Linked DNA regions of Homo sapiens: region 1 is reported to be linked to region 2. Evidence: microRNA targets listed by miRTarBase, many of them from high-throughput screens and not tested one by one. Region 2 holds a microRNA gene; the other region holds the end of a gene's coding sequence.
The links. Region 2 holds the annotated microRNA hsa-miR-4707-5p (GCCCCGGCGCGGGCGGGUUCUGG, at 2,056-2,078, opposite strand). A microRNA usually pairs through its seed, bases 2 to 8, with sites in the 3' UTR of a target mRNA and lowers its output. Matches are read on the target gene's strand: a 7mer-m8 pairs with bases 2 to 8, a 7mer-A1 pairs with bases 2 to 7 and ends in A, and an 8mer does both.

Region 1: the mRNA of UACA is a reported target of hsa-miR-4707-5p. Seed matches in the 3' UTR shown: 7mer-m8 at 2,040-2,046.

Annotation. Positions count from the first base shown.
Region 1 is chr15:70,653,170-70,657,565 of GRCh38, reverse strand. It overlaps UACA (uveal autoantigen with coiled-coil domains and ankyrin repeats), which reads left to right. Exons shown (of 19, transcript NM_018003.4): 19 at 439-3,012. The coding sequence ends at 510. Among named protein-coding and RNA genes, the nearest start is that of SALRNA2, 20 kb to the right of the region's middle.
Region 2 is chr14:22,954,943-22,959,309 of GRCh38, forward strand. MIR4707 (microRNA 4707) reads right to left here and starts at 2,087; the gene lies at 2,008-2,087. HAUS4 (HAUS augmin like complex subunit 4) reads right to left here and starts at 2,148. Exons shown (of 10, transcript NM_001166269.2): 1 at 1,974-2,148; 2 at 158-234. The coding sequence starts at 212. RefSeq lists enhancers at 1,840-1,969, 2,352-2,931, 2,932-3,510 and a silencer at 3,310-3,670.

The DNA of each region.
Region 1 (4,396 bases), not on the chromosome of region 2:
TGGAGTGCAGTGCCACAATCTTGGTTCGCTGCAACCTCTGCCTCCCAGGTTCCAGCGATTCTCCTGTCTCAGCCTCCCGAGTAGCTGGGATTACACCCGTCTAATTTTTATATTTTTACCAGAGATGGGGTTTCGCCATGTTGGCCAGGCTGGTCTCGAACTCCTGACCTCAAATGATCCACCCACCTCAGCCTCCCAAAGTGCTGGGATTGCAGGCGTGAGCCACCACGCCCGGCCGTGCACTCCTTATTAATTGATCTTATTTTCATGATAGGGCTGTACTCCCTTTTCCAGTAATTCCTTTAGAAATCACAATGATGAGGATTTAGCATTTGATGAATCAATGACTAGTTATGCTCTGTAAAAGCTTTATCTTTAGAATTCTTATGTAAACAAAGATGACATAAAATAATGCTCCTCTTTCTTCTTTCTCCGAAGGGTCACATGGATGAAGATGTTCAGGAGGCTCTGCTCCAGATCATACAAATGCGGCAGGGGCTTGTGTGCTAGCCGTTAGCACTGACTGCCAGTATCTGTTTTATCTTGCTGGTGCTGAACATTCTTTGTGCAACTCCATGGTCTTTCTGGGCCTTACTGTGCTGGTATAATTAAAATAAAATATATTTTGTTCTATTGGTAGGTTTTTTTTTAAAATTAGATGAATATGTTAGTCTTTTTCAATATCAGTTTGAATCTTATTTTCTGTATGTGTTAATTTTACAAATAGGCAAACAACATAACTTTGCCCTGGATTGACTACATATTTTTAAACCTTCAAGTCCCTAATAAAACATGAGCCATCTGAGTGAGTCCATATGAAGCGAGGTTAGGCTGAAATAATTGCTTAAAGATGTCTTTCAGAGAAATTAATTTGGTTGGTGGCCACTTTTAGGTGGATCAAAAGACCTTTCAGATCCTCAGAACCTTGAGACATAATACAGTTGTGAGGAATGTGTTGTAACTTGGCTGGCCAAGTTACATGTTACAGTATCTTTACTGAGGTAACTTCATTAGTGTCTTTGGCCTTTTTTGTAGGTATAGATATTTTTTCTTTTTACACTAATAACTTTTATGCCTTTTAAAATAAATTTATTTTCATAAATGGTTTGCAGTGCTAAATTACATTTAGATTAAGAACAGGCAGGGGTGGAATATATCAGGAATTTATAATAAAATTGCCTTAATCTCTACAACAGTATCTTAATTTTTACTTGCGGTGACTATTCTTGCCACAATATTGGAGAATAATGATAGATGATATACTAGATTTTTCAAAGTGTGAAAACCTTTAGACTTTTTTTAGCAATTAGTTTGACATTCGCTACTATAGTAACCAAGCACTCATTATATATGCATCCTCCAAATGTTTCATGCTTATTTATAGGAAAGTTATATTAATGAGATTAATAATGTGAAATACAGTTTTCCTGCAAAATTAGCATTAGAGAATTGATTTTAGATAACAGATTTTTAAAGTTTTAGAGAAAAGTACAGTAATACAGTAAACTGAAAGAGTATATAGATAGCAATAAAATAACATAAGTGGACATGTTTATAGTAAATACTCTGAAGTAAACAACCGTTTTTATTAACTGCATCTCATTAGGGAAAGTTTATATGTCTTGTTATTTTTTATTAACATTTTATTTACCATTCAGAGTGAAAATTACTAATTTGAGTATTAACAAATAACTGAATAAATGGATCATTACAGTTAGGTTTTCTCAAATTGCAAAATTTGCCTTAGCAATTATCTTTGAACATCCCGAACCAGATTTTTAAATCCCATTTTTGTTTAATAGGGTAAAAATACCATCAAAATGACTTCTCATACCAAAGAATAAGCCATCATATTTTTTCGGTGTTGAAACAACATTGAAAGTCAGAATTGGATTTGTTTTTAATTCTTTATACGGTTTACATAAGCAATATCTGTCTCTTTAATTATTATGATTAATGTCGTCCTTCAGCATGAGTTCTGTTTCACAAGTTTTGGGCCACCTATTTCAATAAAAAATAAAATATAAATTAAAAAAGTTGCCGGGGGTGGTGGCTCATGCCTGTAATCCCAGCACTTTGGGAGGCTGAGGGAGGTAGATCACCTGAGGTCAGAAGTTCGAGACCAGCCTTACCAATATGGTGAAGCCCCATCTCTACTAAAAATACAAAAATTAGCCCTGCATGGTGGCAGGTGCCTGTAGTCCCAGGTACTCGGGAGGCTGAGACAGGAGAATCGCTTGAACCTGGGAGGCGGAGGTTGCAGTGAGCCAAGATCTCGCCACTGCACTCCAGCTTGGGCAATAGCAAGACTCCATCTCAAAATAAAATAAAATAAAACTTAGAGCAAAGTTTAAAACTGAGTATTCATATTAAGTGTTTTATTTTCCATATTAGAGATGGGAAGGGAACCTTATGTGTATTTTATTTTGTTTTCAACCATCAATAAAGTTTTCTCTAGAATATTGTTTTGAACATCCTTGTAAAAGATTTGCGAGTTAAACTATTTTATTTACTGTCTGTGAGAGCATTGGGAGTAGGAAACGATGGACTCCAAAGTACAAGGGAGAATACCCATTTTCATTCAGCTATCTGGAGTAAAATATCAAGTACTTCCTTCAACTAATCTTGTCTCATTCACTCACCTTTTGATATCGAAGGCAGAAATTGCGTTTACAACACTGAAGACCAAAGCTTTTTAATTAGTAAACAAGCGGAACATAGATAATGGACAATGCTGGCCACTGCCATTCTGTGTTCAGAAAGACTATGAGACCTGAACATATGGCCAAGAGGAAAGAAGAGTGACGTTGTCTAAGATGTAATGAGTGCTCTCTGAGAGAATCACTCAATTCCTATTGGAGTGCAATCCTTACTTGAGAACTTTATTACTCTTGTTCTGTGTAGTTTTTTTTTTTTGTCACTTCCCCATCAGAAAAGCATATTCTTTTTGATAGAGGGTCAGTGTTATAAATAATTGTCTTTTGAAATAAAATCAAATATTCATGCATTGAACATCTTAAATCTTTAATATTATGGTGACTATAATCACTTAACTGTATCAGCATTGTTCTAGAATTCCAGATGAATTTAGCTTTGTCTTTTTTATGGCTTTTTAGTTGAACCTTTTCTCTTGACCCTAACCAAATTTTATAGTTTACAATTTTCTACTCTTCTTATAAATGCATTGGCTCATTGCTGCTTTAAAAATCTTGTAGCTTTAGAACATGAGCATTTTTTTTCTCCAGTGTTATCAGCTTTCCTCTGACAAGGAAGGACCTAAAAACTATTCTCACACATGTGCTTGTTACCCTACCTGAATGTTCATGTCTTTGACCGACTCGTTTCAAAGTAAAAAAGGGAAGAGTTTCTAGTTAATTTTTGGTGTTCATGGTGACTAGATACATCAGTGCCTGCTTGCAGGAGTGCCAGACCCTAGCAGTGGTTACAAGCTTCTTTTGACATCTGCTTCACCATGGTAGAAGACAGTTACTTCTTATTGCCTCTGTTTTCATCACTGGATTCTGCAACCTTGCGATCTTTTTTCTTGTTGGTTCTGTGCACCAAAGTAATGGTAGCTCCTCTGGCACCAAAATACGGGTTGAAAGAGAATGCCTGTGATGAACATGAAAGATGTGGCTGACCTAGATCTTACCCTTGGCCCCTAAGTTTTATGAATAAGTTCAGAGGGAGGATAAAAAGCACTGGAGAAGTAAAGGCAGAATTTGCACCATAAAATAGATTGTGCACAAAATACGAAATGAAAATTAGTATAGACATTTCAACTGTCATTTCATTCAGTGTTGTTCCCCGCTAAACTGGAAACTGAACCTGAGACTGTTGCTGGAAATTCAGTTCTTTCCCGTGTTTTGATCTTAGCTATTTGAAACAGGACTCTTTAGACCAGCCTCTCCAGGTAAATATTAACCTGCTTCTTAGCATGGTTTCTGATTATTACTGAATATATTGACCTTTGGGCTCAAGTGAGTAATGAATGTACAGATTTTTTTTTTTTTTTTTTTTTTTTTAAAGATCAAGCTGTATCAGCGATGGCATTCCAACAAGACTCCCTGGGCAGTGAGGGTGCTTGTGTTCAGTGTAATTGGGCATGTGACATCACTTATATATTAGAGGCATTTTCATTATTTATGCCTGCATGAACAAACATTGATGATGAATTAATTCAACCAAAAAGAGAAGGTTACAAAAATGTCATATGTAAATGAAAAAGAGCAAGACTGGTGAGGGTTGCTTCTCCAGTTCATATATATATATATATTTCAGTCTAATTTATATGTATATATATTCCATTCAGTAAAATAATGGAAGAGACATCAATAAAAACAATGCCCCTTATAATTGATATTTGGCATCAAATTGTACTTAATAGGCCTTTTTT
Region 2 (4,367 bases):
TCTCGATCTCCTGACCTCGTGATCCACCCACCTCAGCCTCCCAAAGTGCTGGGATTACAGGTGTGAGCCAATAAATGCTTTTTACTAGAAAAGGCAAGAACCTGGATAAGACCTCTCTGGATAAATCATCAAACCTTTTGCAAGTGGCTACTCTTACCTTGTTGAAGTATTTCCATCCCTTCTCCAGGTGAGCAGAAATCCCCGGATGCCATTTGATTTTCTTGGGATTCTAATCTGTGGAACCAAGAAGTGAAAGAAAACAAAAAGATGAATAAACAGCTGGCTGCTCCAAGGACACTACCTTATGTTCAAATTTCTGCTGTCCACAAGCTGGAAAGGAACCTCAAGGATGACTTTTACAGAGGGCCTATACCACACATCCTGGGTCCCAAGCTCTTACACAAGCTTTATGGACAAACAGATTTACAAGTGCCAAAACATGTCACATTCTAAGCACACATGTGTTTCCACTTGCTCCAAGCTGTCCAAAAGGAGCATCCTAAAAAGAGAACTTTCCAATTCACTGAGTCTAAACAAGAGGATTCTCCACCACCACCACCATTATGCCAAAGTTAAAACTGAGCTGCAGCTTCCCAGTTATGAGTGAACTGGGGGAAAAGGGAAAAAAATCAAAGTCTACTTTTTCCCCCCAAATAACTCAGCTATCAAATTCCATAATAGTTTTTTTGTGCTTCTTTTTTTGTCTAAGATCTGTTGGTAGTTTTTTTTTTTTTTATCATTAACTCTAGAATCATCCTTCAGGAATGACAAATCATTCCACACTTGAACAACTGGTTTTCACATAACAGCCTAAGAAAAGAGCACCTGGAGGAAACAGCGTGACAAGAAGACTGACAGTGAGGTCAGTGGCAAAAGAGTAATGCAAAGGTGTAATGTGGCTACAACGAGAACGTGAGCTGTGGGTGTTTTGCCAGAACATGGAGTGCGCTGAAAGGAATGACACCAACACAGGGGCAGTAAAGATGGGCACAGTTTGACCTCAGGAGACAAAAATTTTCCCTTGACATTACTTTTCATGTTTTTGCTCTGCCCCTCCTCTCTGCAAGGTATCAAACTCCAAAGGGCAACTGAGCCTCCCAAAGCTGAACAGGCATTGAAGGTTATTATGATTTAACGCTTCATGTTTATAGAACATTTGGTTTACTCGATCGTTTTATGAGTAACATCAAAGTAACTACTCATTTGTTTTCTAACATGGTCTAGAGGGGGACGCAGCTGAGGAGGCAGAATGCTGGGACTTAATTTGCAGCTCGGCCGGCCGTTGCTTCTGAGAACTTAAGGAAAATGCTTTTTTCTGTGCCAAACTTTTCCCACCTGCAAAACTGAGATAACGATTCCTGCCTTGGATGAGACATTAAGAATTAATAACACAATCGACTTGTCAACAAAAGCCACTACTTAGTTAAGTTCAGTGTTTTAACAATTCTGTTTATCGTTGATCTATGACTGCAAATAAAAAGTTTTGCAGGCAAATTTCGCACTTGGAAATGAAGACCAACCCAAATTCCAAAAAGCTAGCTGTTCGTCCCCCCCTAGGGTAAGTGTCCCCTTGCGTTTTTTAGGGTGCCTTTCTTTACCCTTCTTAAAGGTTACAGGGCGTGAACGGCAATCAGGCTCGATTCTCCACCCTCTGCACTCAGACGTGTTAAAACGCTGCTACAGGGACCCAAGCATTTAAATGTTCTGACTCAGGCGTCTTTTAAATTCTTAGAGCTGTCTTTACACGCTGCACTGAACGTTAAATTGATTTTACAGGTTATTTTCACAAGATATGACCCTTACAGGGCCCGAGATGAATCAAAATGCAGAACGGGCTCTCCGGCGCCTACTTCCCTTCTGTCTGGGCGGCCAAGGATTCCCAAGAGCGACGACGGTCTCCGGCCACTGGCCGGAATGACTCTCCCAGAGCTCCTCTTCCCCGAAGCTCCGCCCGCCGACCCTCTAAAGCAAACCTGCACACCCTGGGGCAGCTGAAGCTCTCAAGGCGGTGCCGAGAACCTCGGCTGGGGCGGGCTGGCCAGCAGCGTCTACACCCCAGAACCCGCCCGCGCCGGGGCTCCGGAACCTCTCGTTCGGGCCGGGCGCAGGGGCTGGGGGAAGCGAGGCCCGGAAAGACCAAGCTGAAAGGCCCGGGAAGGGGAAGGAGCCGAAAGTGCACTAGAGGCCGCGACGAAGGAGGTGGAGGCGGGGCCACACTCGAGGCGGGAACGGCAGGCCCCGCCCCTCGACGGGTGCGCGCTGGGTTCCCAACGCCCTGGGTTCGCATGCTCGGGTGGTGGAACCCGGACTGGGAAACAGGATGGTCTCGGAAAGGCTTTTTTGCCCCTTCTCATTAGTGCCTCCCCAGTGAAGGGCAGATGCTGAGAAAATGGTGGTAATTGCTAACATTTATTGAGGGCCTACGATGAGTCAGGCACTACGCCAAGCATTTTGCTTGCCTTGCCTCGTTTTTTTTTTGAGACGGAGTCTCGCTCTGTCGCCCAGGCTGGGGTGCAGTGGCGCAATATCGGCTCGCTGCAAGCTCCGCCTCCCGGGTTCAAGCAATTCTCTGCCTCAGCCTCACGAGTAGCTGGGATTACAGGTGCCCGCCACCACGCCCGGCTAATTGTTGTATTTTTAGTAGAGACGGGGTTTCACCGTGTTAGCCAGGATGATCTGGATCTCCTGACCTCGTGATCCACCCGCCTCGGCCTCCCAAAGTGCTGGGATTACAGGCGTGAGCTACCGCCCTCGGCCAGGCCTCGTTTAGTTCTTAAAGCGTCCTGTGAGAAAGTCACCATTATACTCATTTTACAGAGGGGGAGAACTGAGGCACAAAGGGTTAAGTTCGAGGTCGCCATTTGGGGGGTCTAAACCTGTCCCAATAGCTCTCGGAAGGAACCTTCCCAGACCTGCCACCCAAGCCGCGTCCTGCGAGTCTCCTCACTAAGGCCTGGCTCTGAGGCGCTGCCGCCCAGCCCAGCCCAGCCCAGCCCAGCCCATGCCGGGCACCATACAGTGCTTCCTCAGGGTCACCTTCCTCTCGAATTCCCACCACAGACTCCCTATTAGCGCGCATTCCTCATTCGCCTGTTTTGTTTGTTTGTTTGTTTGTTTTCTTGGGGGTACGGAGTTTCGCACTTGTTGCCCAGGCTGGAGCGCAGTGGCACGATCTCGGCTCACCGCAACCTCCACCTCCCAGGTTCAAGCGATTCTCCTGCCCTAGCCTCCTGAGTAGCTGGGATTACCCGCACGAGCCACCACGCCTGGCTAATTTTTATATTTTTAGTAGAGACAGAGTTTCACAATATTGGCCAGGATGGTCTCGCACTCCTGACCTCAAGCAATCTGCCCGGCCAAATATCTTTCACCTGTCTTAATCTTTTTTTTTTTTTTTTTCCAGACGGAGTCTTGCTCTGTTGCCAGGCTGGAGTGCAGTGGCGCGATCTCTGCAACCTTCACCTCCCGGGTTCAAGCGATTCTCCTGCCTCAGCCTCCTGAGTAGCTGGGACTACAGGCGGGCGCCACCACGCCCAGGTAATTTTTTTTGTATTTTTAGTAGAGACGGGGTTTCACCACGTTGGCCAGGATGGTCTCAGTCTCCTGACCTCGTGATCCGCCCGCCTCGGCCTCCCAAAGTGCTGGGATTACAGGCATGAGCCACCGCGCCCGGCCCACCTGTCTTAACCTTAAACCCAACCCTCACTCCCACCCACACCTTCGGTGAATTATTTCAAAAATATAAATTTAAAAAAATAAAGAGCTGGGCATGGTGGCTCACGCCTGTAATCCCAGCACTTTGGGAGGCTGAGGCGGGCGGATCACGTGAAGTCAGGAGTTTGAGACCAGGCTGGCCAACCTGGTGAGACCCCCGTCTCTACTAAAAATACAAAAAATTAGCTCCAGAGGCTGAGGCAGGAGAATCGCTTGAACCCAGGAGGCGGAGGTTGCAGTGACCTGAGATCGTGCCACTGCACTCCAGCCTGGGCAACAGAGTGAGACTCGGTCTCGAAAAAAATTAAAAATAAATAAAAATTAAAAATAAAGAAAATGTTTAGGCGGGGTGCAGTGGCTCATGCCTGACCCAGCACTTTGGGAGGCCGAGGCAGGAGGATCACTTGAGCCCAGGAGTTCGAGACCAGCCTGGGCCACATGGCGAGACGATCCCCATCTCTACAAAAAAAAAATACAAAAAGAAAATATGCAATACTAAGTAAACTGTGCCAAGTATATCACATCTTTTACATTAGATAAGGTGATAGCCTGGAGTGATAGGAAAGGAATCTCCGTTAGGTGTGCTGAGAGATGGGGAGTTTCGCCTTTTCCTTCAGTACCAGCTACAGAATTCTATTAATATGCATAGAGGA